Linked DNA regions of Homo sapiens. The protein of the gene in region 3 purifies or fractionates together with the protein of the main gene of each other region. This does not show direct contact. Each region holds a gene or a part of one and is shown on either strand. Other genes may lie near its edges. The genes, in order: KLHL12, HADHB, OSBPL5, PLD1, AKAP8L, NAGLU and NPC1.

Region 1 (2,807 bases), on a different chromosome or scaffold from region 3:
GGGGAAAATGAATGCATTAGCAAATGTATGGTACTAAGCCTAGAATCTGAATTATAGAAATAAACTACGGTCACTAATGACTAGCTGAGTTCTACAGTAGATGAGGGATATGGAATGGGCCCACACGGGCCTAGAATAATCTAGTCCAGCACAAGTTATTCCATCTATAAACCCTTTGGCTTGGACTTGAAATGATAAAAGATAAATAATAAAAATGGTTCTCTTCTTTACTTTCATTAACTCAGAGCCCAACCCTTCTAATTAGGAGAAAGGGAGGAAGTGAAAAAAAGGTGGCAATAAAGGTAGATGGAGGGAAAGGAGTTGTGATTATGGTTCTGAAGCAATTTTTACCCAGAGTAAGTAAACTAGAACAGCACAGTGCTCTCTCCTTTTCTATATCCCAGCCTGCTCCACTTCAAAAAGCTCTTGGTGAAGGTAAGTAGCTACTCTTTTGTCCTTATGCATTAGAGACTTTATTTAACAGATATTTATTAAGCATGTACTACACAGGCAAAATTGTACTAGATATTCTAAAACGTAGGGAGAGAACAAAGACATGAAGGCTTTTGCTTTCAAATTTATAATCTAGTTGTAAGTATCAACTGTCTTTATCCTAGTATTTAGAGAAAACAGAGACAAGGAGGAGAGCAGAATCTCATTTTTACATTAATCTACGGTTTGTCCCATGCACCACCATTATATATGTAAAGGTCTGACAGCATCGCCTATTGTCCCCTCCCTCAGATCTGGTCTTACCAGAACGCTTGGTGGCCATTGGTGTAACATTAGTCCAATGTCCTGTATGAGGGTCGTATTTCTCAACTGAATTTAAGATATTCAAGCCGTCATATCCTCCTGGAAGACAGAGACCATTCCAGAAAGAGTGGTAAATCCTCATGCCCATTCCTGGTCGGTTTTTTTCTGAGTGCTTCAACTAATTATTTTAGTTTCAATTTTCCCACAAGAGTTCCAATAACTCTAAGAGAAATCTGACATTATGCTTATAAGAAAAAGATAATCCCAATTAATGGAAAATATATTAAGACACACCAGGGTTTTAGTTGAAGGGAAGTCTATGAACGTCATTTTGGTAAAAAGGAATCCTTACCCACAGCCCATTACCCATTGAGTTCCCTCCCATTCCTGCATCCCAGACTCAATACCTAGACAGTAGATCACTCCACTGGCCACTACGAGTCCGGCACCTTCCCGGGCTGTCTGCATATCTCCCAGCATGCTCCACTGGTCAATGTTTGGATCATAGCGCTCCATACTGGTGTGACGCCTGCTTCCATCAAAGCCTCCAGAGACATAGATCATATCTGCTCAGAATAAACAAATTACAGACTATTAGAGAATGAGAGATTTCTAAGAACTCTTTCCTCTACAAATTTTCCAAGGGTCCTTTAAAAGTCTGAGAGCAAAAACAAAGTATTTTTAAATGAGATAAGTCAATTAAGTTTTATAGACAAGGAAGACATCTAAAAAGAATGGGGTAAAACAAAATCCTTAAAAGCATTCAAAGACCACCTAGGAGTTTGCAAAAACACAACTAGTGCCAGTTCCCCACCCAGCACATTGGAACTTGATTTGCCAACTTTGTAGTCAATAATGAAACATCCATGAATATTGAACAGCTTCTATTACACTGATATTTCTGAAAGCAAAAAGGAGTATTTGTCGGCTGGGCACAGTGGCTCACACCTGTAATCCCAGCACCTTGGGAGGCCGAGGTGGGTCAATCACTTGAGCTCAGGAGTTAGAGATCAGCCTGGGCAACATGGCGAAACCCCATCTCTACTAAAAATACAAAAATATAGCTGGGCATGGTGGTGCATGCCTGTAGTCCCAGCTACTCAGGAAGCTGAGGTGGGAGGATCGCTTGAGCTTGGGGAGGTTGAGGCTGCAGTGAGCCGTGATCACACCACTGCACTCCAGCCTGGGCAACAGAGAGAGACCCTGTCTCAAATAATAATAACATTTGACCTTAATTTTTTCTCCGTATTTCATGCTCCTGCCAGACAACAGGAGAGGTTAAAAACCCTGGTCCAGCCACAGTAAGATGGAAATAATTGCCCTGCACATCCAGCCTACCTCCCAGGGTGGTGGCTCCAGCAAGACCTCGTCGGACATTCATAGGGGCCACAGAATACCAGACCCCATCCTCATCTGCTGTGTAGTCTAGACATTCCACTGAACTAAGGCGGGAACGGCCATCATAGCCACCAATGACGTAGATCCGGTCATGAAGGGACACTGAGGCCACATAACGTCTCTTACGAGTGATGCTCTATGGATTTGGAGAGAAGAGGTACAGAGCATTTCAGTTAGGCAAGTTTTGGGCCTTACCTTTTGCTATCTTCCCTGTTGTATCTGCACACCTCTCTGCTTCTTCACCTGTCATCATGAACCCTCCTTAAGTGGTTCATCCTCAAGTGGCTCCCAAATAGCTACCTACTGAACGAAATGCCTGTTGTGGTGCTCTTAAAGATACAAGCTTTCTGCATCTCTGCCTCTTTCCAAGGCTTCCAAAAGATTTAACAGCTTTCTGTTATCCAATATCTGACTCCTTTCTCTTCCATAAGGCACTGGGCTAAGAGACTGATATCCTTCCATAAAGTAGAAAAGTATTCCCACATTGCTAATCAAAGGATGAGGATTTATTATAAGAACCTTAAAAGGTAGGAGGGTTGGATTTCCATGTTTTCTCAGAAATTACTATTGTTCATTCAGCACTGAGAGACATGCTGAGGGAGACAGATACAAACTTTTTTTTTCTGAGTTGGGATCTCACTATCACCCAGGCT
Region 2 (3,500 bases), on a different chromosome or scaffold from region 3:
CTTAAATATGGATGCAAATTTTGATTTATGTTGTAACAATAGGTTAACATTTTTTAATGTTTCTATAAGAGTGTCCTTTTAAGATCTGAGCACTAATCTCAGCACTTTGGGAGGCTGAGGCAGGAGGATCGCTTGAGGCCAGGAGTTCAAGACCAGCCTGGTCAACAGCGTGAGACTTCATCTCTAATTAAAAAAAAAAAAAAGAAAAACAGAGTCTCCTTTTAGATCTTGCTGATATATTTTAGTTCTTACATACATGCCTGTTTTTAAAATTCCTGAATCGTCTGACTTCTGTATAGAATAGCCAACTGTGAATGAATGTCTTAAGAAAATAGGGTGTCCTATTTTTAGTAAAGCATTTAGATGATTTCCCAATTGTCTTTTAAGACTTTAGTTTAAAATTTGATAATATGATAATTATAAAACACTTTCCTTCTAGTGAATAGGTAAGGTTTATATTTCATTTGTTTTTGTAATTTTTAAAGCATATTTCTGTGGAGAAGATATATAAGGCTTGTGGTTCCATAGAGTTAAAAAAATTCATTTTTTTAATAGGAAAAGATACAGTTACCAAAGATAATGGCATCCGTCCTTCCTCACTGGAGCAGATGGCCAAACTAAAACCTGCATTCATCAAGCCCTACGGCACAGTGACAGCTGCAAATTCTTCTTTCTTGGTAACTGTCAATGTTATTTGTATTTAGTAGTGACTTTTCTATTTCTGTACTCTCTGTAGAAAAGCCTAATATAACTTTTTGTGTGTGTTATGAATAGAGGGTTAAAAATATAGTTATTCATTTTAATGTGAAAGTGGAGTCATTAAAAAAAAAATAGAATCACGGTTTTAAGGCCCGAGAAGTCACCTAATCCAGCCACCATTCTGCCACAAAAGCTCTTCCTTTCAGGCACTTAACCAGTCAAAAACTTCTATTGCTTATGGTGGGCCCTGGAAATGAAAAGAATAGACAATTGCAATATAGTGAGATGCTGTGATGGCTGTAAGGCTTAGGTCGAACCCCTGACCCAGATGGGGGGACAGTCAGAGAGTCTTCTTGGAAGAGGTAACACTTGAGCAGCAAATCTTGAAGGAAGAGTAAAAGCCAACTCAGGAAGGATTTTAAAAGGCATTTCAGGCCGGGTGCGGTGGCTCACGCCTGTAATCCCAGCACTTTGGGAGGTTGAGGCAGGCAGATCACCTGAGGTCAGGAGTTCGAGACCAGCCTGAGCAACATGGAGAAACCCCGTCTCTACTAAAAATACAAAATTAGCCAGATGTGGTGGCACATGCCTGTTAATCCCGGCTACTCGGGAGGCTGAGGCAAGAGAATTGCTTGAACCCTGGAGGCGTGGAGGTTGCGGTGAGCCAAGATCGCACCATTGCACTCCAGCCTGCACAAGAGCGAAACTCCCATCTCAAAAAAAAAAAAAAAAAAAAAAAAAAAAGGCATTTTGGACAAAGGGAATAGCAAATGCAAAATCAAGGAAGTATGAGAGCAAGGGGTTCTTTGGGGAAAAGTTAGGTTGGAGCATAAGGTATGAACTGGGAAGTCGCAGAAGACAAGGAAAAGCAGGCAGAAAGAGTAACAGGATACCTCTTCCAGCCCTGATTGTTAGAAAACTGCTTTACACTGACCCCAATATTATTTTCCTGTAAGCATCATGGAACAAATCTACCACTGTTTGTTTTGTGTTTTTTTTTTAACTTATCAACATGTAGCTTCATATCCTTCCATGCTTTTCTGACTCCTCAATTAAACATCTTTATTGATTCTGCTGCTGCTTGTAAGATGTGATTTCTCTTCTCTTACCACCTTGGGTATAGTCTTCTGGATATAGGCCATCTGGTCAGAGTTTCTCTTACAATGTAACTCTCCTACCTGGCCATAAAGTCTTGAAAACATACGCAGATGTTTGACATATTTGCCCATGGTAAATGACTAATTAATGCCTGCTCTTGATAGGCTAGGGGAGTGGAATCTGGAGTAGTTCCAACAGGATGGAACACCACCCTGTTAAGCCCAGGTGGTGAAGAGCTGGTTAGGTTGGTCATTTGCAAAACCGAATTGGATGATAGAGCCATGTGGCATGGACTACACTTGCCAGATCTGAATCCTTTTGATTATTTCCAGGGTATGCTAAAGGTCCAGGTTTATTTAGTGAGAATCAGAGACACAAATCATCAGAGGTGACACATCACAATACATGGATTTTGGGGACTGCATTAGTGCCCCACATTCATTGCAATTTTGCACAATGGCACATTGAACCTGTTATTAATGTAATGTCTGTAAACCATTTATTCCATATGGTCACCTATGTCTCCAGACTTTATGGACACCCTATTGGTGGCTACACAGTCTCTTCAGGGTTGCCGAGTTATAAAAATACGACAGAATGTGGTAGAACTTATTTTGATTTTACAAATTATGAAGAATAGTTTCCTTTTCTTTGGAATTCTGAAGTTTTTGGGGGAGCTTTTCTTCTTTGAAGTATGGTAAAGGACGTTTTTTCAGTAGTACTTCTTTGTCCTCCAGCTTCTCGGTTGTCATTTGGGAAGAAATGTATGGGGTGTATCCAAAGAGGGAAGATTGTGGTTCTAATGTCCTCAGCTGGTTCTCCCATTGGTTTGCTCGTTACAGAATATATAAGTAGAATAAAATGACCTGTAAGCCACGGGCAGAAAGCAGCTGAGAGCCCAGAAAATGTAAAAATAAATAAATAAGAGATATGTTTATTTTGGTTCATATTTTGTGCCACAAGCTAAAAACTTTGGCTTAAATAAGTGTTTAGTGTTTATTATGAGCAGTTCTTTCTTTTTTTTTTTTTTTTTTTTTGAGACAGAGTCTGGCTTTGTCACCCAGGCTGGAATGCAGTGGCACGATCTCAGCTCACTGCAACCTCCGCCTCCCAGGTTCAAGCAATTCTCCTGCCTCAGCCTCAGCCTCCCAAGTAGCTGGGACTACAGGTGTGTGCCACCACACCTGGCTAAGTTTTTCTATTTTTAGTAGAGATGGGGTTTCACCGCGTTAGCCAGGATGGTCTCAATCACCTGCCTCATGATCTGCCCGCCTCAGCCTCCCAAAGTGCTGGGATTACAGGCATACAGGCATGAGCCACCACGCTTGGCCATGAGCATTTATTTCTAAAGTTACCTCTTCTGTTGATTCATTTTGATTATTATGATACTTTTGAACAGCCTTCTCTACCCTCATCCTCCAAAAATGAGTCAGCGTGTGTATGTTTGAATTATGATTTAATGATGGATACAGTGAAGTAAGTGTTGTTATATAGAATCACTGTATAAGTCTAATGAGTTAATAGATTCAGGTACAGATATATAAGATGGCTGGAGAAAGACCTCCAGACAGGCTGAAGAATTTTAACATTGTGCTGGTTAACATTTCAGACTGATGGTGCATCTGCAATGTTAATCATGGCGGAGGAAAAGGCTCTGGCCATGGGTTATAAGCCGAAGGCATATTTGAGGTAAAGTAAATGTT
Region 3 (3,500 bases):
CCTTCTGTATTTAGCAAAACCCACAGAATGAGCAACACAAGGAGTGAAAAGGAAGGTGAACTGTGTACTCAGTTAGTAACAATGTATGAGTATTGGCTCATCGATGATACCAAATGTAGCACCTCAGTGTGAGATGTTAATAACAGGGGAAACTGTGTAGGGGACACACAGGAACTCTCTGTACTTCCTGCTCAATTTTTCTGTAAACACAACACTACTGTAAAAAAGAAAGTCTGTTAATGAAAAAATAAAAAAGAAATCCAAACTTTGAAACACTGTAGCAAGACTACAGGGCACCAAGGCAAGGAAAATATCTTCAAAGCAGCTACAGGGAAAAGCAGATTAGGTAACAAATAGGCTGACAGCTGATCATCCCCAACAGCAATGGAAGCCACAAGGCAAGCAAAACGCACATATTCAAAGGGCAGTAAAATAGCATCTACATGGAATTACCCACCTTCAAAAGTCATGGGCGAGGCTGGGCGCGGTGGCTCATGCCTGTAATCCCAGCACTTTGGGAGGCCGAGGCGGGCGGATCACCTGAGGTCGGGAGTTCGAGATCAGCCTGACCAACATGGTGAAACCCTGTCTCTACTAAAAATACAAAATTAGCCAGGCGTGGTGGCGCATGCCTGTAATCCCAGCTACTTGGAGCCAAGATCACGCCATTGCACTCCAGCCTGGGCAACAAGAGCGAAACTCCATCTCAAAAAAAAAAAAAAAAAAAGTCATGGGCAGATGAAGGCGAAGTAAAGATACCTTCAAGCAAATAACCAAAGGGTTTTAGCATCTAGCTGCTCTCACAGAGCCTGGCTCTGCCCTCGGAGTGTGTGGCTGAGCCTCTCACCTTTGCAGTGGGCGTAGGGCATGGTAAGGGTGTAATCCTCGGCTCGGTTCAGGAAGGTGAGCGTGGCTTTGCCGTCCAGCAGCGCCGACAGCGAGTTCCCTGCAGAGACAAGAGACAGCAGGACCAGTGAGTGCGGACAGCCCTTTCACATCTGAGGCCACCCCTAAGTCACAGGGTCTGAGCTCCTTCCAACAGCTGAACACGCTCCTGGCACTTCCAGTGGTGTGTCTGTGCGTGAGTCACTTAACCTCTCTGGGCCTCAGATTCTGTAAAATCCTTGTCCAGTGTGCACAGGACATCTGTGCTGAGAAGTTATTTCACCTTTGACTTGTTAGTGGTTTATTGCAGTCGCAAAACTGCAGATTCGCAGGGTGGAGGCTGCAAACTTTTTCAAACTCGACTGAGCCCTGCTCAGATTTTAAACATCCCTGTGGAGGGAGTACGCCTCGCTTGGGGCCACGAGTCGCAGGTACTGCTGGTGAGGAGAGGACAGAGTTGGGAAAGGTGGGCTGAACCTGAGGGTCGCACCTGGGACCCCCTCCCAGACTTCCACACACCCAGCAGAGAGCCGAGCACACAGAGGCAACAGGCGCACACCTGCCCATGGATGAAACTGATGAAAAAGGTACAACGGATGGGACGAAATGTAAACGGACACTTTTCTGAGCACCCAAGTCTGCCAGGCCCCAGAGCAGTGCAGTCCAATGGGGCTGTCTCTGAAGACCAGAGCTTCCCTCCTGCCTGTCCCACTCCGGGGCCAACACTGAGCCTGTGTGATTTGGCAATAGAGGGACTGCAGTTTCAGTTTCATTTCTTTTTTTTTTTTTTTTTTTTTGAGACAGAGTCTCACCCTGTCGTCCAGGCTGGAGTACAGTGGCACCATCTTGGCTCACTGCAACCTCCACCTCCCGGGTTCAAGCGATTCTCCTGCCTCAGCCTTCCCAGTAGCTGGGATGACAGGCACGTGCCACCATGCCCGGCTAACTTTTGTATTTTTAGTAGAGACAGGGTTTCACCATGTTGGACAGTCTGGTCTCAAACTCCTGATCTCAAGTGATCCACCCACCTCGGCCTCCCAAAGTGCTGGGATTACAGGCGTGAGCCACCATGCTTTGACTAAGTTTCATTTCATTTTAGCCAATTCAAATAGTCATGCAGTGCTCTGGGGCTGCTCAGCCCCAGTCCGCACCTTTCCATGTAGGTGCCCTCTCTCAGTCCCCACAGCGTCCCTACAAAAGGTGCCCACTCTCAGCTCGGGGAGCTGCGGGCAGCTCTGCCTCATGGCCGGGTCTCAGCACCTGACCACCACATGGTCTCTGACTAGGAGGGGTTGGGAGGGACAGGCACATGGCCCCCATCCAGATCTTGGTCCACTGGCTCCCGGAGTCCTCCCGACCATCGCATTTCCCTGAGGCCCCAGGGAGCGCCCAGGGTGACCCCCTCACCATAAAACCTGGACTTGGCTGTGATGCTGCCACTGATGCAGAAGCCGTCCTTCCGGTTGCTGACGTGGAAGGCAGACACGGGCGGGTGGTGGGACACCTGCGTGCAGGGAGGCGGCTCTGTAAACAGCCCCGGAAACAGGTAATCCCAGGAAGCGAGAGCCCAGCTTCCCCCAAAAAACCTGTCCCTGTCCCTGACGCCACATCTTCTCCCCCGATCCCAGGATTCGGGTAGGGGCCTTCCTGGCTCTCGCTTACGACGCCCAGGGCAGGTAGGCCTCAGCTGTGGGGCTTGCGGGCCCTGAGTTGCCCCAGAAGTCCCCATCGGGAGATGGGACACACTGTCCTCTCCCTAGGGAGACACTGTCTGCTGTCACAGTCATGGTGGTGTCTGCACCTTCTGCAAGAATCCCTGTTGGCAGCGGCTGGGTCCACAGCCCTTCCGGTGTGCAGGATGTGGGGTCCCCTGGAAGCCGGCCCTCGGGGTCACGCTTGCCCCTGCCTGCTGCCAGGGCCCCGCCCCCACAGAGCCCCGCCCCATAGAGCCCAGCACCCAGGCCGGTTGCAGCAGAGGTGCTCTTGCCTGCTCTGCTATGTAGAATGTGCGGCTGTCAGTCTGCGGGTGGAACCAGCAGCAGCGGAAGGTCTCCCCCAGGATGGGGTTGTACGGCTTCTTGATTCCCTGCAGACAACAGAGACTTGTGTGAGGAGCCAGGTGGGTAAGAGGTCCGCTGTGCAGAGCAGGTGAGGGATGTGGACGGAGGGGCAGCGTGGGTGGGCTACCCGCTGCCTGCTGGCCTGGTTTGCTGCTAGCATCTGGGAACAACACCTCACTTCTGCTTTGCGGGGACTATGCTTTGCCTGTGGTTTACATTCTTGGGGGACAGCCTCAGGGGAATCCTGTCCACTTCTTAGCTCGGAGAAGGGACACGAGACCCTGACCTTGTCACACTCTCCTTGGACCTTGGGTGTAACCTGCACACAGCCTGCTGAAAGCCATGGAAGGCACCAGGCAGTCAGAAGTCCTGCCTCTACCCCAAACCTGCTGTACGACTCAGGCCATCCTTTCACCTGAGCCTCAGTTTCCCCATCTGCACAATAAAGAAGTGGAACCACGGTCGTGGTTTTCAAACTTGCTTCCCATGGAACCCCAGGGCTCTGTGGTGGGGTCAGGGGAGCTGCGGGCCCTCTTGCTCACTACAACGAGAGCA
Region 4 (3,500 bases), on a different chromosome or scaffold from region 3:
TCCAGTGATCTGGTAGGTGGTGGAAATAAGTTACTCAACTGCCTGAGAAGGTCAAATTTCATTGTTTAATGATGAATCTTGTTGTAGCCCTAACTGCCCACTAAAAGTAAACTTGTAAGGACTGTAAAACCTTGTTAGCCCACAGCCTGTAATAGAATGGACAGATGCCACCCTAGTTGTGTCTTAAGAAATTAAGAAGCTTTTAGGTGTTTAATAAATGAGAGTTGAGCCTCCCTTTCTGGGACTCACCTGAACCACAGTCTCTGAGGGGGTCTTGCTGCATTCACAGATACCGGGTCCATCCGTAGTTTACAGACAGGTGTGGGAGAGCTGCATGGGGAAACCAGATTCTGGCATGGAAAGGACTACTGCAATTTCGTCTTCAAAGACTGGGTTCAACTTGATAAACCTTTTGCTGGTGAGTATCATAATGGTGGGGTGCTGGTTATATTTTGTCTTTTACCTTTGAACATCTCAGCAAGTATACATGTGCATGATCTAAATGCCTTTTGTTTTGCTTCCGTTGATTTTTGAAAATTTTTTAAAACTTTGGAGACTAGATTTAGTCATTAGCATGTGCTTAAGGACTTTTTTTTCAGTTATAATAAGAAAAGAACATGAAATAGAGCTGAACTGTCTGAAAAATCCAGATTTTTATAGGCATATTTTGGGGGCAATAATCAGTAATTTTTCAGGAAATGGTAGGCTCCCTTTGATCATCTTCTATTCTGCTTATTTCCTGCATTTCCAGCGTTAGAATGGCATATTTTCAGGTTATCACTGGGTTTATATGTTTAAGAGGAGATAGAGATGGCATTGCCTGCCATTGTTTCAACAGGATAAAAAATAAAAAATATAATATCAAATACACAGCCTTAGATAATTTGTACCAACTCACATCTTGCCATGTCTAGTGATTATCTAATCCTAAGTGAAACGGAAACATATGTGGGGAAGTGCCTGGGAGACTATGTCCCTGAATGTGAAATCTGTTTCCCTTGATTATAAAAATGTTGTTCTATGCAAGCCAAGAAATATATACCTAGTGGGCACTAACCCACGTTTCCTTTTAGTTTCATAGTTGGAGTCAGAGAGACTTTGCCCCAACACTGAAGTTAATGACTGATCCTTGCCTGGTGCACCCGGGCAGATTTCATTGACAGGTACTCCACGCCCCGGATGCCCTGGCATGACATTGCCTCTGCAGTCCACGGGAAGGCGGCTCGTGATGTGGCACGTCACTTCATCCAGCGCTGGAACTTCACAAAAGTACTTGGATGTTGCTATCATGATTTATCCACATGAAGAGAGGCAGGCCTAACTAGAGAAGAGGTTTAGAGGAGGCTGGTAGCAAGAAGAGACTGTTGTGGCCACAACTGTGTCACTGCTCTGCTGTTGGCTGCATTGATGTCCGGGTGCCTGGGCATCTGGGCAAAAAAAAAGGGAAACATTCCCGAATGTCCACACCATAGACAATTCAGAGTGCCTAGGGACAGGTGCTGCTGTGTGGGTCCTGATTTTAACCTTGTTAACATCTTGGACACAGTGTTGACTAAGCATTTAGTAGCCTGGGCTCGGTAGTCATTTGCAGGGCTGTTATAGGGGGATAGGAGCCTGGTTTAGATGAGAGGGCTTGAGCTTTAAAGTCCCATCCAGTTGGATGGGACTGGAATTGCACTGGGTTTATATTGGTACAGGATTCTGAGAGCTGGTTCTGAGCAAACCAAGAAGTATTAAGAAGGTGGGGCCATTTTCCTTTTATCCAGATTGTGTCCTCATTACTTGTAAGAACTTGACATAACATTCAAACCTAACATTCATAAGTTAAGTACGTATCATTCAGGCCAGGCACGGTGGCCCACGACTGTAATCCTGGCACTTTGGGAGGCCTAGGCTGGTGGATCACCTGAGGTCAGGAGTTCGAGACCAGCCTGACCAACATGGTGAAAACCTGTCTCTACTAAAATACAAAAATTAGCTGGGCATGGTGGTGGGTGCCTGTAATCTCAACTGCTCTGGAGGCTGAGGCAGGAAAATCACTTGAATCCAGGAGGCGGAGTTTGCAGTGAGCTGAGAGGACTCCATTGTACTCCAGCCTAGGCAACAGAGCGAGACTCTGTCTCAAAAAAAAAAAAAAAAAGTACATATTCAGGTGTTATTAAAGTTTCACTTTATTTACTTGAAGGGATAATGAGTCATGATTCCCCTTGGTCGTTTGGAAAAAGAATTTAGTTTTATCAACCACTTAGAGTCTAACTTTGTTTTTCATTCACATAATGATTATAAAAATTTAGTGGACATTCTAATTGAAATTTTTTAACAAAAATTTAGGGGAGATGGATGAATAAACAAATGGGGTGTTACTTTTAACCTGCTATACTGGCAAAGATAAAAGTCTCTGCTGATACCTGTAGTTAGGTTTGGGGTGGTTTTTGTGGTGTGCTCATACATGCTACCCCAGGGAGGATAAATTTGTACAACACCAATAAGTCTTTTTTAAAGTATGCAATCTTTGATCCAGAAAAACTATTTCCGGGTATTCAAACTAAAGCCATAATCCAATAAGGTAATTTATTTTGATATGGCTTCTAATAATTCAAATAAAATTAGAAATAACAGAAATCCTTACTAATAGGAATTTATTAAACAAATGATTCTTTTATACCATTTTACTATGAAGTTATTAAAAATAATGATATCCCACTATATTGCTGTGACAAGATATCTAGAACATAATCAGTAAAAAATTAGTTTATAAAACAATAGTCTCATTTTTGCAATTATAAAGTTCTGTAACTACAGATTATATTTAACCTGTCTTTACAAATATAAAACAATATTTCCCCTACAAAAGGTAAAAACAGGACTGTGAGAAGTAGAAAACAAACACAAATAATCTGTAGCCCTTCACTTAGAAATGTCCACCATTAACATTTTTCTTTTTCTTTTTCAAATTAACCTGAATTTCTTTTCTTTTCTTTTTCTTTTTTTTTTTTTTTTTTTTGAGATGGAGATTCACTCTTGTCACCCAGGCTGTAGTGCAATGATGAAATCTCGACTCACTGCAACCTCTGCCTCCGAGGTTCAAGTGATTCTCCTGCCTCAGCCTCCCGAGTAGCTGGGATTACAGGCGCCCGCCACCATGCTTGGCTAATTTTTGTATTTTTAGTAGAGATGGGGGTTTCACCGTGTTGGCCAGGCTGATCTCGAACTCCTGACCTCAAGTGATCCCCGCTTCTTGGCCTCCCAAAGTGCTGGGATTACAGGCGTGAGCCACTGCACCTGGGCATGAATTTCTTTTATAATCACAAAGTAGGGAGAATGAATCTTTTTTCTCATTTGAATATTTTATCCTTTTTCTTTATTTTAGATTATGAAATCAAAATATCGGTCCCTTTCTTATCCTTTTCTGCTTCCAAAGTCTCAAACAACAGCCCATGAGTTGAGATATCAAGTGCCTGGGTCTGTCCATGCTAACGTACAGGTAAGTAAGTTCTGGC
Region 5 (3,500 bases), on a different chromosome or scaffold from region 3:
GGAGTCACCTGGGCGAGGTGCTCTGTCTGGGCCTGGTGTCCACAGTAGAAGCCCGGGGTCTGGGGCCTGGGCCGGAGCAGGCCGCCGTGGCAAGGGGCGGAGGAGGCCAGCCGCCACCGAGACCTCGGGGCGGGTCCCTACCTCTGCCGGACGTCCTTATCTGGGCCACGGGGTCAGCTTTGTCTGGAGAGCCCAGGGGCCGGGCGCCGGCGAGGCTGAGGAAGGTCCAGCAAGAGCAAGAGTCTGAGGCGGAGGAGGCAAGCGCCAGTGCGGGAGCCCTGAGGGCAGACAGACCCGACCAAGGGGCGTGAAGGGCTCAGCCGCAGACAGGCCCGGCCTGACAGGGCCGGCGGGCAGGGCAGAAGGCAGGCCCGAGGCTGCCACAGCCCACAGGTGCTGCCATCTCTCCTGGGCACGGCGGTGGCCTCTTGGCAGCTAGCTGGGGCGGCACAGGCGCCTTGGACCTTGAGTCTCTGATGAGCTGGCCCCCTCCCTCAGGGGCATCAGGCCCCCAGTGCACCTTGGGGTTCGTGCGCCGAGTGACCTAGCGCCAGAGCTTCTGAGCAACGGTGCCGAGCGGTGTCAGGTCTCGGCCCACAGACGCCAGCGGTCGCCAGGCGGCCGCAGAGGGGCAGGGGATGAGTCAGGCCTTGGGAGCTGGGCCTGGCGGGAAGCAGGGTCCATGCACGGCCGAGCAGGTGGCGGCTCCCAAGGGAGGCCAGAGGGCGGCGAGCTGGCAGAGCTATGGCCCTGCTCTCCTGGCGGCAGCCCCACAGCGAGGCAGAGGCAGAGGGGTGGAGGGAAGCTGGTTACCTTTCCACCATGCGGTCTCGCTGCCGCTTTTTCTGCTTGTCCTGACTCTTCTTGCCTGCCTGCAACTTGCGCTTGGTCTGGCCATTTTCATCCTGGGTGGTTAGGGCCCCTGTGGGAGCAGATGGGCACTGTCACCAATTTGGCTCTGCCAGGACAGGGCAGGCCCTGCGGCCTCTGGCTGAATCACCCACTGTCCACTCCAGAGGGTCCATCGAGAATAGCTGTCCAAGCAAGGCCTCTGGCCATGAGCAGGGCTGGGTATCCTGGGCTGTGCAGGGAGTGGGTTTGGCCTAGGCCCCAAGGAGTGGGGGCCAGGCGATGACCCCTCCACTCTCCAGGACACCCATGCTCTCTGTGCAGTGGGCCAGGAGGAGGCTGGAAAGCAAAGAGGGGGTATCTTTGTGGGGACACTGGCACATGTTCAGAGGGGCCAGGTGGTGGGATGCAGGGAGGCTGCTCACATGGCCCTGCCCACCCCCAACCGGGCACCGCGGCAACAGTGGGCTGACGCTGGATTTGCTGTTAGGTACCTGCTGGCGCTCATCACTCAGGTGGGGGGACACGGAATCCCAACAGGGGCTGGAGAGGTGCTAAGGGAGAGGATACGCACACCAGAGCCGTAAAAACTGCACCGAGGGTCCCAGATCGGACACCAGCCACTGAGGACTTGGAACTGCGCGTTACTGAGGGACCGAGGGCAGGGGGCGTGCCTGGGGTTCCCCACACTTTTACTAGCTGCCCCCATCTGAAGGCAAAACCAGTGTGCTAGGCAGGGGTCACCACCATCCACAGCCTCCGCCTGGGAAGGAGGAGGAAGAGTGGGAAGGGGGTGGAGGCGGCGAAAAGAAAGCCCCCTGCCAGCACACACTCGGGCCCACAAGGGAGGTCCCCAACTGGCCGCATGTCTGCCGCAACCCTGCCCTCAGCTGGGTCCCTCCCACTGTGAGCCCCTGGAAGAGCCGCCCTAGCACCAGGCACCCCAGGAAAACTCACCCTTCTCTGGATCCTCTTTGCCTTCTTCTCTCCCATCCTCTTTTCCCTCCTCATCCTCTCCGTCCTAACAATTTCAAATTCCAACTTTAAAACAGGTGCCTTTTTTTTTTTTTTTAAAAGAAACCAAGTTTATTAGAGCAACGGTATATAGTAAAACAGCTGCTTGCTCCATAGACAGAGCAGGGCTATCCTATAGGCAGGGTGGCCCAGAGTAGCCCAGTTATTTACAATGGCTTTAAATGACAAGGCCCGGCTATGTGCCAGAAACCTCACATCCTCCCACTACCTGGTGCACAGGGGCTCATCCCATTTTCCAACAAGGAAACTGTGCCTCCAGCTAGGCAGCCTGTGCTTTCTGCCAGACCACACTGCCTCCCCATGCTGGTCACCATGCACGCAGAGCTGACACAGCATTGCCTCTGGCCCCCAGGGAGAGCACCACTCTTTAGGCCAGCTCGCCCTGCCTGCAGACAGAAAATGCCCAGCCAGAGCCACTTACCACTCTGGAGCCCTTCTCCACAGCCTCGGTGCCTTCAAGGCCCTCTGTGGCTTCCCCCTCGGTGCCCTCATCTGAAAGGGAAAAGGAGGTAAGCTCAACCCAGGAGTTCCCAGAGGCAGGGGGCAGCCGCCCAGTACCACCTAGTGGGCTCACCATTGTCTGAGTCGCTGTTGTCCGAGCAGTCCGTGCGGGTGGCTTTGCTATCTGGCTCATCAGGACTGCCGCCCTGCTTTCTCTTCTTCTTCTTGGTCTGGGTCATAAGGGGGGGAAGCCGTGTCAGGGTGCATGGCACCCGGCCCTTAGCTCCGCCCCAGTGGGAACTAAGCTTCCCAGAGGGGAAGGCTGCCTCCACTCACTCGGAAGTCGGCTGTGGTCCAGGTCTTCCAGGTCCGCCTCATCTGCTTCATGCCATTGCCAAACCCGAAACCAAAGCGGGAGCCGCCCGGGAAGGCGCCCCCACCTCGCATGCCCTGGAACATGCCGTACTCGGGGATGATGTTCTGGGAGAAGAGGGAGGGCAGCCGAGAGGCACCAGACATGCACTGGCCCCGGGCCCCCATGGGGTCTTCCCACATGCGCCCATAGCCTGAGGCCATTGGCCGGCCGCTCCGGGCATCCCGGGCCCAGCCCTGTGCCCTGGGACCGAAGGTGTCGTTGCCACGCATGCGGAACTGGTCGCGGTAGGCATCGTATTGGCCCTCATAGGCCATTTCCATCTCAGGGTCAAGCTCGCTGTAGTCATAGCCTGACCGGTACAGGTCGCGCTCACTCAGGACGGCCCTCGAGTCGCAGGACTCATAAGAGTCATACCTGCAGAGGCATGGGGTGAGCATCAGGTGGAGCCCCTCAGGATCCCTCACCTCCAGGCAACTGCTCCTGCCCTCCCCAATCTCCCAGTCCAGCACCCACCCTGCCCTGGTTGGGAGGCTCAATGTTCAGAAATGCCGATTAAAGAGTTCCAGCCTCTCAGCTGATATAGGGGCACCACTGCCCCAAACTTGAATGTAGCCACACACTGGCTTGGGGACCCTAAGAAGGACTGAAGGACTGATAACTGGGGTGGAGGCTCTAGTCCAGTGAGTCTCAACAAGGGGCAGAGCTGCTCCACAGCCCTTTGGGAACATGTACACCATCTGTGGGAGCTGCAACGCCCAAGGCTGCTCCTCACAGGGCAAGGCTGAGCACCCCAGCACCC
Region 6 (2,854 bases), on a different chromosome or scaffold from region 3:
CGAGACTCTATCTCAAAACAAACAAAAATTGCCGGGCGTGGTGGCGGGTGCCTATAGTCCCAGCTACTCGGGAGGCTGAGGCAGGAGAATCGCTTGAACCTAGGAGACGAAGGTTGCAGTGAGATGAGATTGTGCCACTGTGCTCCAGCCTCAGCAACAGAGTGAAATCTGTCTCAAAAAAAAAAAAAATGTAGCTTCTCCTTCAGGTCTTGGGTAGGGCCTGAGAATTTGCCATCTCACAGCTCGGGCTGCTGCTGCTGCTGCTGCTGGTTTTGGGTCACACTTGGAGCAGTACTGCTCAAGAAAGGCTGAGCTGATCTGTTCCCTTCCTGGCCAACACAGACGCCTCTCCACTAAGTCATTCCTGACTTGGGCGCCCTCTGCTCCACTCCTCCTTTAAGTGGCAGGAAGGAGCCCTGGCTTCACAGTTTTGTAGCAGGATGCGCACTTAGTGCCTTTAGGCACATCCACTCACCTCCTGCCTGCAGTGCCTACTTCAGCAACCACGCAGAGATGAAACAAAATCCTTGTTCATAGCTAGCTCTTAGTGGCCTTTGCTCTGGGCCAGGCGTTATTCTACCTATGAGGTAGTCCCAGTTTACAGGAAAAGCAAACGAGACACTGGGAAGGAGGTCATGAGTCATAAGTCACACGGCCAGGAAATAGGAGCGCGAGGTGTGACCCAGGTTGTTGGCTTCCAGAGCTCACCTCTCAACCACAGTGGGATTCACTGAGACAACGCATGTGTACACGTGCTTGGTAAACTATGAAGTACTGTGTGTTATGGCGAGGCATTATTCCAGTCCCTCTGCCTACCCCTACTGACATCTGCTACTCCCTTCTTTTTGAGGGTCTGGGGGGCTCTCCCACCCCACCCAGGCACTGTACCTGCAGTCATGGCCTCATAGACGGCAGTGGTGGCTGCGGCAAGGTAGGAGGGCTCTGAGGAAGGTGGCTGCATCTCATTGAAAGTGTCGGCCCCATAGATGTGGTCTGTGCCAAACTCTTTGATCAGCTCTCGCAGGAAGAGGCTCCCGATGATGGGGAATATGGGGTCTTCCGGAGCCAGAAGGAAGGAGCAGGAGTAGGAACAGTTAAAGTGGCCCCAACTGCCCATCTTCGTGACATTGACCTGAGGGAACACCCTAGTGGGGAGCAAAAGCTCAGATATTTCATGGAAGCCGCCATAGTGTTCACCATAGTGTTCAACAGCCTTGCCAACTTCTCTACAGCTCCTGGTTTCTCTTGCCTCTATGGCTTTGTACAGGCTATGCTCTCTGCCTACAGTCCTTTCTTCTCCTTCCCTGGCCACCTTCTCTGAAAAACTTTCACTATCTCTCCCCTTCCTGTGGCCTGAAACAAGCAACGCTCCTTTTTCTTTCTTTTTTTTTTTTTTTTTGAGGCAGAGTCTCACTCTGTCCCCCAGGCTGGAGTGCAGTGGCGCATTCTCAGCTCACTGCAAGCTCTGCCTCCCAGGTTCATGCCATTCTCCTGCCTCAGCCTCCCTAGTAGCTGGGACTACAGGTGCCCGCCACCACACCCGGCTAATTTTTTGTATTTTTAGTAGAGACTGAGTTTCACTGTGTTAGCCAGGATGGTCTCGATCTGCTGACCTTGTGATCCGCCCGTCTCGGCCTCCCAAAGTGCTGGGATTACAGGTGTGGGCCACCGCACCCAGCTTTTTTTTTTTTTTTTAATTATACTTTCAGTTCAGTTCTGTGCAGAACATGCAGGTTTGTTGCATAGGTATACATGTGCCATGGTGGTTTGCTGCACCCATCAACCCATCATCTAGGTTTTCAGCCCCGCATGCATTAAGTATCTGTCCCAATGCTACTCCTCCCCTTGACCCCCACACCGCGAAAGGCCCCGGTGTGTGATGTTCCCCTTCCTGTGTCCATGTTGTTCTCATTGTTCAACTCCCACTATGAGTGAGAACATGAGGTGTTTAATTTTCTTTCCTTTTTTTTTTTTTTTTTTTGAGACGGAGTCTCACTCTGTCACCCAGGCTGGAGTGAAGTGGTGTGATCTCGGCTCACTGCAGTCTCTGGCCCCTGGCTTCAAGAGATTCTCATGCCTCAGCCTACCGAGTAGCTGGGATTACAGGAGCCCGCCACCACGCCTGGCTAATTTTTGTACTTTTAGTAGAGATGGGGTTTCGCCATGTTGGCCAGGCTGGTCTTTAACTCCTGACCGCAGGTGATCCATACGCCTCAGCCTCCCAAAACGCTAGGATTACAAGCATTAGCCAAGCGTCCGTCCAAGCAACACTCATTTTTCAAGGCTGGGCTCTGCCCTGAGCCCTTCCTGCCCCTCTCTCCCGGCAGAGGAGAGCGGAACCCACATATATTCCTGTCCTTGTCCCCACATTGTATCCTTCAGCCAACATATCTCTCCTATCAGGGGTAAGCCCTTGGGCACCTTTCTTGCCGCCTCCCAGGACCCAGCACAGCCAGTTCTGGCAGCCTCAGACAGCTGGACCAAGTTTATTGAATGAATGAGTGAGTTTCCTGCCACCTGGTGATGGGGGCAAAGAGGCGGGCAGGGAGGCCACTGGCATGCATTAAGTCCTACGAGAGTATGGGAGCCAGACATTAGCAGGTGCAAAGGAGGTCATGCGGGGCACTAGCAAGGCTTCCTGAAGGAGGGGAGGTCTCAGGTGAGCCTTGAAGACTTTTCCCAACCACATGTGAGAGGATGGCTGGGAAGCACAGAGGAACAGGAGGGACAAGGGACACTGGAGCACCCCTGCTGCCACTCCCAAGGGCTGCCATTTGCTAGCACTCTGTGCAAAGTCACAGATAGATCGAGAGATAATTACAAACCCTACAGCGAAGTGGGTAGAGATCCCATT
Region 7 (4,225 bases), on a different chromosome or scaffold from region 3:
GAGACAGGGTCTTGCTCTATCACCCAGGCTGGAGTGCAGCAGCATGATCATAGACAACTGTAGCCTCCTGGGCTCAAGCAATCCTCCTGCCTCAGCCTCCTTAGTAGCTGAGACTACAGGTGTGTGCCACTATGCCCAGCTAACTTAAAAAAAATTTTTTTTTTGTATAGAGGGAGTCTTGCTACATTGCCCTGGCTGAGAATTTACATTTCTAACAAGTTCCAAGGAGATGCTCCTGCTGCTGGTCTGGGGATGGCCGTTTGAGGATCCCTGCATGAAGGCATACACAGGACTTGATCCTCAGTGGGGGCACCAGGAGCTGGAGCCTGGGGAGTGGGAAGCGAGAGCACAGAGCTGACTGAGGACCACGAGGTCGTCGTGGAGGACCTAGGCTGAAGGTCCTGAAGAAATCCCCATAGTTTCACTGCCAGGCCAGCCAGGTGGACATCTCAGGGCTGAGGAGGTGAGAAGGCAAGACAGAAAGTGAAACAGCACTTTATAGGATAGGGATGGGAAGGTCATCTGCATCATGGGACTCCTTGGGGAGGGGTTCGGTCATTGCTCCAGATGAAGGTTTAGTCTTTTCATCGTAAATTTGCTTTCACTGTTGGGAAAGAGATCTTCACCTCCATTTTCTTAACTTCAAAATGGAAATGACAGATGCTTTTGAGTGGTCTGAATACTTGAAATTTGAGGGAAAACGTTACCAGAAACACATACAACTAGAGTTAAAGATAAATACATATATCAAACGCATGGCTCAAAAATGACAACGCGTCTTCTTTATCTGCCTTCACGTAGAACTTAAAACAGACCCTGGTCCCCACCTCGGGGTTTCCTCGCGCCCACGGGCTGCGCTGCGCAGCTGGGCCAGCAGGTGGCGAGGCTCCCGCACTTTTTTTCCCGGGCCTGGCCGCACCGCCACCGCCCACCCCGCGCTCCGCCCCGCCCCGCCCCGCCGCACTCGCGGATCGTCACACGGTCAGGCCACCGCGCGTCACCGCCCCGGGCTCTGCTAGAAAGTGCCGGGGTCCAGATTCCTTTCAGGTGACTGGGTTGGGAGGAGAAGTCGCTCAGCGTAATTGTCGGAGCCGAAATAAACAGAGACTCCGCGGCCGGGCGGGACCTTACCCGGAAGTCCCCCAGAACAGCACTACCCTTCGCTGAAACCTCGCCCGCCCCCTCCAACCCAGAGACGAAAAGGGAAAGCATCACGGCCAGAAACCGTTGGCACAACTCCACAGATACTCTCCCGGGCCGAGCCAGACTCCATAAGTCCCGCGCCTGGCCCCCGGGGATTGCAGGGGCTGAGGAGAAGGGCAACACGGGGACCTTGAAGCGGGGTCGCGGCGGCGCCCCAGCCCGGGCCAGGGAGTCCCGGCAGCGGCACCTCCCAGAAAGGGCGGAGCCGACGACGCCTTCTTCCTTCCTGACCGGCGCGCGCAGCCTGCTGCCGCGGTCAGCGCCTGCTCCTGCTCCTCCGCTCCTCCTGCGCGGGGTGCTGAAACAGCCCGGGGAAGTAGAGCCGCCTCCGGGGAGCCCAACCAGCCGAACGCCGCCGGCGTCAGCAGCCTTGCGCGGCCACAGCATGACCGCTCGCGGCCTGGCCCTTGGCCTCCTCCTGCTGCTACTGTGTCCAGCGCAGGTGAGCGGTCGCCGGCCACCGGGACGCCCTGTGGGGACGTGGCGGGGCCGAGAGCCGGGGAAGGCGACGGGCCCAGCGACGGCTCAGGCCCGGGTCCTGGGGAAGTTGGTCTGGCGATGGAGAGCTCGGAGGTTCCTCACTTGTCCTGTTTCTGTCTCCGGCCACGCTCTCTTTCCTGTGGTCTGGAAGAGGGTGGCAGTGGGGGCTTGGGTGACCTGTTCTGAGCTTGTTCCATCTGTGGTCACCTAATTTCTCTGTGTAGGATGTGGCACCAGAAGAAGGGAGGAAAGTGGGTAGAGTGGGATAGGGACACTACTTGCTTTTTAAAAAATTCTGCTACATGCGCACGAACTCCAAAATTTAGGAGCTCTAACCACTTTATTTCCTCTTCTCATCACCTGAGGATGGAGGTGGAAGCAGAGGTAAAGAGACACAAACTTCCTCAAGCACCCGGTGAAACTGCCTTGAGTACTTGACATAAGTCAGCTTGGTCTTCTAAAGAGGGCAGGTTACTTTTCATCAACTCCTTTTTACACCTCAGGACACTGAGACTCACAGGGCGGTATTGAATTTCCCCTTGTCACTATTAGCCAGCGACAGGATGGGGCCTGGAACTCGGTGTCCTGCTGACTCCTTCTGGGGGCTTTTGCTTGGTTTAATAGCTTTGGGAAAGAGCACCTCAGTATTTGTGTGTCTGTAGTTTCCTCTTTTAAAACTGGAGTGGGGCAGTGTCACGCTGTGACTCGTTAAACCAAATCAGGATGAGAGTGCCTCCGGGGAATTGTGTCCTTGTGCACATTAACGCCCCTCACATAGGTGTGGCGTCAATAGGAAGTGGTGAATCAGGGGAGAGGGGGTTCCGTGGACTAGAAAAAACTCTCCTTCGACTTCTATTTAGTTCTCAGAAGGGGATAGGTGATGTTGATCCAATAATGGACTAAGAGCCAGGAGAAGGGCTCCGCGGGAGGATCTCTTGAGCTCAGCAGTTCAAGACCAGCCGGGGCAACATGGTGAAACACCGTCTTAAAAACATTTTGTTTTTCTTTTCATTGTTGAGGTTGAGGCTGCTGTGAGCTGTGATCACGCCGGTGTACTCCAGCCTGGGCAACAGAGCAAGACCCTGTGTCAAAACAAAAAAGAGAGAGAAATAAATAATAGCAATTATGTGCCGTAGAGAAAATGTGGCTATTCTGTTTCCCTAGAGTTTTTTAAAATTTATTTTTAAAATTTATTTATTTTAGAGACAGGTTCTTGCTCTGTTGCCCAGGCGTGGGGGCAGTGTCGCCATCATAGCTCACTGCAGCCTGGAACTCCTGGCCTCAAGCAGTCCTTCCACCTTGGCCTCCCAAAGCACTGGGATTATTGTGAGCACCACTCCTGGCCCCTCCTAGAGTTTTAGATCAGGACCTTAAATAGGCTTCCCTTTTTTTTGGAGACAGAGTCTCTGTTGCCCAGTCTGGAGTGTAGTGGCGCAATCTCGGCTCACTGCAACCTCTGCCTCCTGGATTCAAGCAATTCTGGTGCCTCAGCCTCCCAGGTAGCTAGGATTACAGGTGCCCACCACCACGCCCAGCTAATTTTTGTATTTTCCGTGGAGATGGGGTTTCACCGTGTTGGTCAGGCTGGTCTCGAAATCCTGACCTCTAGCGATCCGCCCTCCTCTTTTGGGGATTACAGGTGTGAGCCACCTCGCCCAGCCAGGCTTCACATTATTAAGTAGCCATCTCTTAAGTATTTTTTAAATCTCAAGTACCCAAGGCTGATGGCCAATGAGTGCTTCTTTTATGACATTTGGGATAGGTCAGAGGTTTGTTGTAAGTCTCTTGCAAAAATGCCTGGAGGCCTTTTCAAGGTCTGTAAACCTTAACTGGAAATAATCCTATTATTATTTTAAAAATTCCTCATGTCTGAAAGCTTTCAGTGCACCTGAACAGATTGGGGTGGAGCCATGAAGCCAAACAGATTGGGAGAGAGAGTGTGTCTGCTTTTAGAATTCGTACCGATGATAGCAGCTCATTAGCTTCAGTCTGAGCGCTAGTAGAGTTCTATCATGGAATTATGGACTAGTTGTCCTGTGTAAGATCTGAAATACATGTTGGGGGGATTTTTGCTTTTTCTTAATGTTCAATATGTACAGATGATGTAATAACATTACTAGACTGCCTTGTTTTTAAAACCCTGTAGTCATCTAAAAACTATATGCAGTTTTGAGACATAGCCTTTATTTTTCCCGGCTGTAATTTTGGTAAGCTTTATCTTGAGGGACTTGGAACATAGAGAAGCCTGGGTAGAAATTAAGCATTAAAATGGCTTTTCCTCAGAAGACTGGGAATGGTTAATCTTTTGACCTGTGAGTGATTAAGAACAACCATCTGAAATTGGAATGACTGTGGGAAATCTTTCCCCATCTTTCCCACTCCTTGACTGATGCTGTGATCAGAAATTTTACTAACATAAGTAATCAAGGGGAAAATGAGATTTTTTTAAATTTGAGCCAGTGGGCAGAGGGAAAAGGACTCGCTGAATAGGCCTTTGTATTCCTCCAGTGTTTGTTATATTACCCAGAACAAAGAATCACTC

Evidence for each region.
Region 1: the proteins of OSBPL5 (region 3) and KLHL12 purify together in Homo sapiens (co-immunoprecipitation; one large-scale study listed by IntAct). This does not show direct contact.
Region 2: the proteins of OSBPL5 (region 3) and HADHB purify together in Homo sapiens (co-immunoprecipitation; one large-scale study listed by IntAct). This does not show direct contact.
Region 4: the proteins of OSBPL5 (region 3) and PLD1 purify together in Homo sapiens (affinity purification with mass spectrometry; 2 studies listed by BioGRID and IntAct, with this or other methods). This does not show direct contact.
Region 5: the proteins of OSBPL5 (region 3) and AKAP8L purify together in Homo sapiens (tandem affinity purification; one large-scale study listed by IntAct). This does not show direct contact.
Region 6: the proteins of OSBPL5 (region 3) and NAGLU purify together in Homo sapiens (co-immunoprecipitation; 3 studies listed by BioGRID and IntAct, with this or other methods). This does not show direct contact.
Region 7: the proteins of OSBPL5 (region 3) and NPC1 purify together in Homo sapiens (affinity purification with western blotting, with the first as the bait; one study listed by BioGRID). This does not show direct contact.

What each region holds. Positions count from the first base shown.
Region 1 is NC_000001.11:202,893,428-202,896,234, forward strand, and holds part of KLHL12 (kelch-like protein 12), read right to left. Parts: intron 2,291-2,807; coding exon 2,095-2,290; intron 1,323-2,094; coding exon 1,164-1,322; intron 856-1,163; coding exon 757-855; intron 1-756. UniProt on the Homo sapiens protein: Substrate-specific adapter of a BCR (BTB-CUL3-RBX1) E3 ubiquitin ligase complex that acts as a negative regulator of Wnt signaling pathway and ER-Golgi transport.
Region 2 is NC_000002.12:26,279,439-26,282,938, forward strand, and holds part of HADHB (trifunctional enzyme subunit beta, mitochondrial isoform 1 precursor), read left to right. Parts: intron 1-555; coding exon 556-677; intron 678-3,406; coding exon 3,407-3,486; intron 3,487-3,500. UniProt on the Homo sapiens protein: Mitochondrial trifunctional enzyme catalyzes the last three of the four reactions of the mitochondrial beta-oxidation pathway.
Region 3 is NC_000011.10:3,099,311-3,102,810, forward strand, and holds part of OSBPL5 (oxysterol-binding protein-related protein 5), read right to left. Parts: intron 2,972-3,500; coding exon 2,873-2,971; intron 2,390-2,872; coding exon 2,293-2,389; intron 947-2,292; coding exon 848-946; intron 1-847. UniProt on the Homo sapiens protein: Lipid transporter involved in lipid countertransport between the endoplasmic reticulum and the plasma membrane: specifically exchanges phosphatidylserine with phosphatidylinositol 4-phosphate (PI4P), delivering phosphatidylserine to the plasma membrane in exchange for PI4P, which is degraded by the SAC1/SACM1L phosphatase in the endoplasmic reticulum.
Region 4 is NC_000003.12:171,674,484-171,677,983, reverse strand, and holds part of PLD1 (phospholipase D1), read left to right. Parts: intron 1-289; coding exon 290-418; intron 419-1,150; coding exon 1,151-1,269; intron 1,270-3,370; coding exon 3,371-3,484; intron 3,485-3,500. UniProt on the Homo sapiens protein: Function as phospholipase selective for phosphatidylcholine. Implicated as a critical step in numerous cellular pathways, including signal transduction, membrane trafficking, and the regulation of mitosis.
Region 5 is NC_000019.10:15,398,489-15,401,988, forward strand, and holds part of AKAP8L (A-kinase anchor protein 8-like), read right to left. Parts: intron 3,116-3,500; coding exon 2,662-3,115; intron 2,556-2,661; coding exon 2,459-2,555; intron 2,377-2,458; coding exon 2,306-2,376; intron 1,871-2,305; coding exon 1,807-1,870; intron 923-1,806; coding exon 814-922; intron 279-813; exon of another isoform or gene 142-278; intron 1-141. UniProt on the Homo sapiens protein: Could play a role in constitutive transport element (CTE)-mediated gene expression by association with DHX9. Increases CTE-dependent nuclear unspliced mRNA export.
Region 6 is NC_000017.11:42,539,241-42,542,094, reverse strand, and holds part of NAGLU (alpha-N-acetylglucosaminidase precursor), read right to left. Parts: intron 1,146-2,854; coding exon 889-1,145; intron 1-888. UniProt on the Homo sapiens protein: Involved in the degradation of heparan sulfate.
Region 7 is NC_000018.10:23,583,707-23,587,931, reverse strand, and holds the start of NPC1 (NPC intracellular cholesterol transporter 1 precursor), read left to right. Parts: upstream 1-1,425; 5' UTR 1,426-1,588; coding exon 1,589-1,645; intron 1,646-4,225. UniProt on the Homo sapiens protein: Intracellular cholesterol transporter which acts in concert with NPC2 and plays an important role in the egress of cholesterol from the endosomal/lysosomal compartment.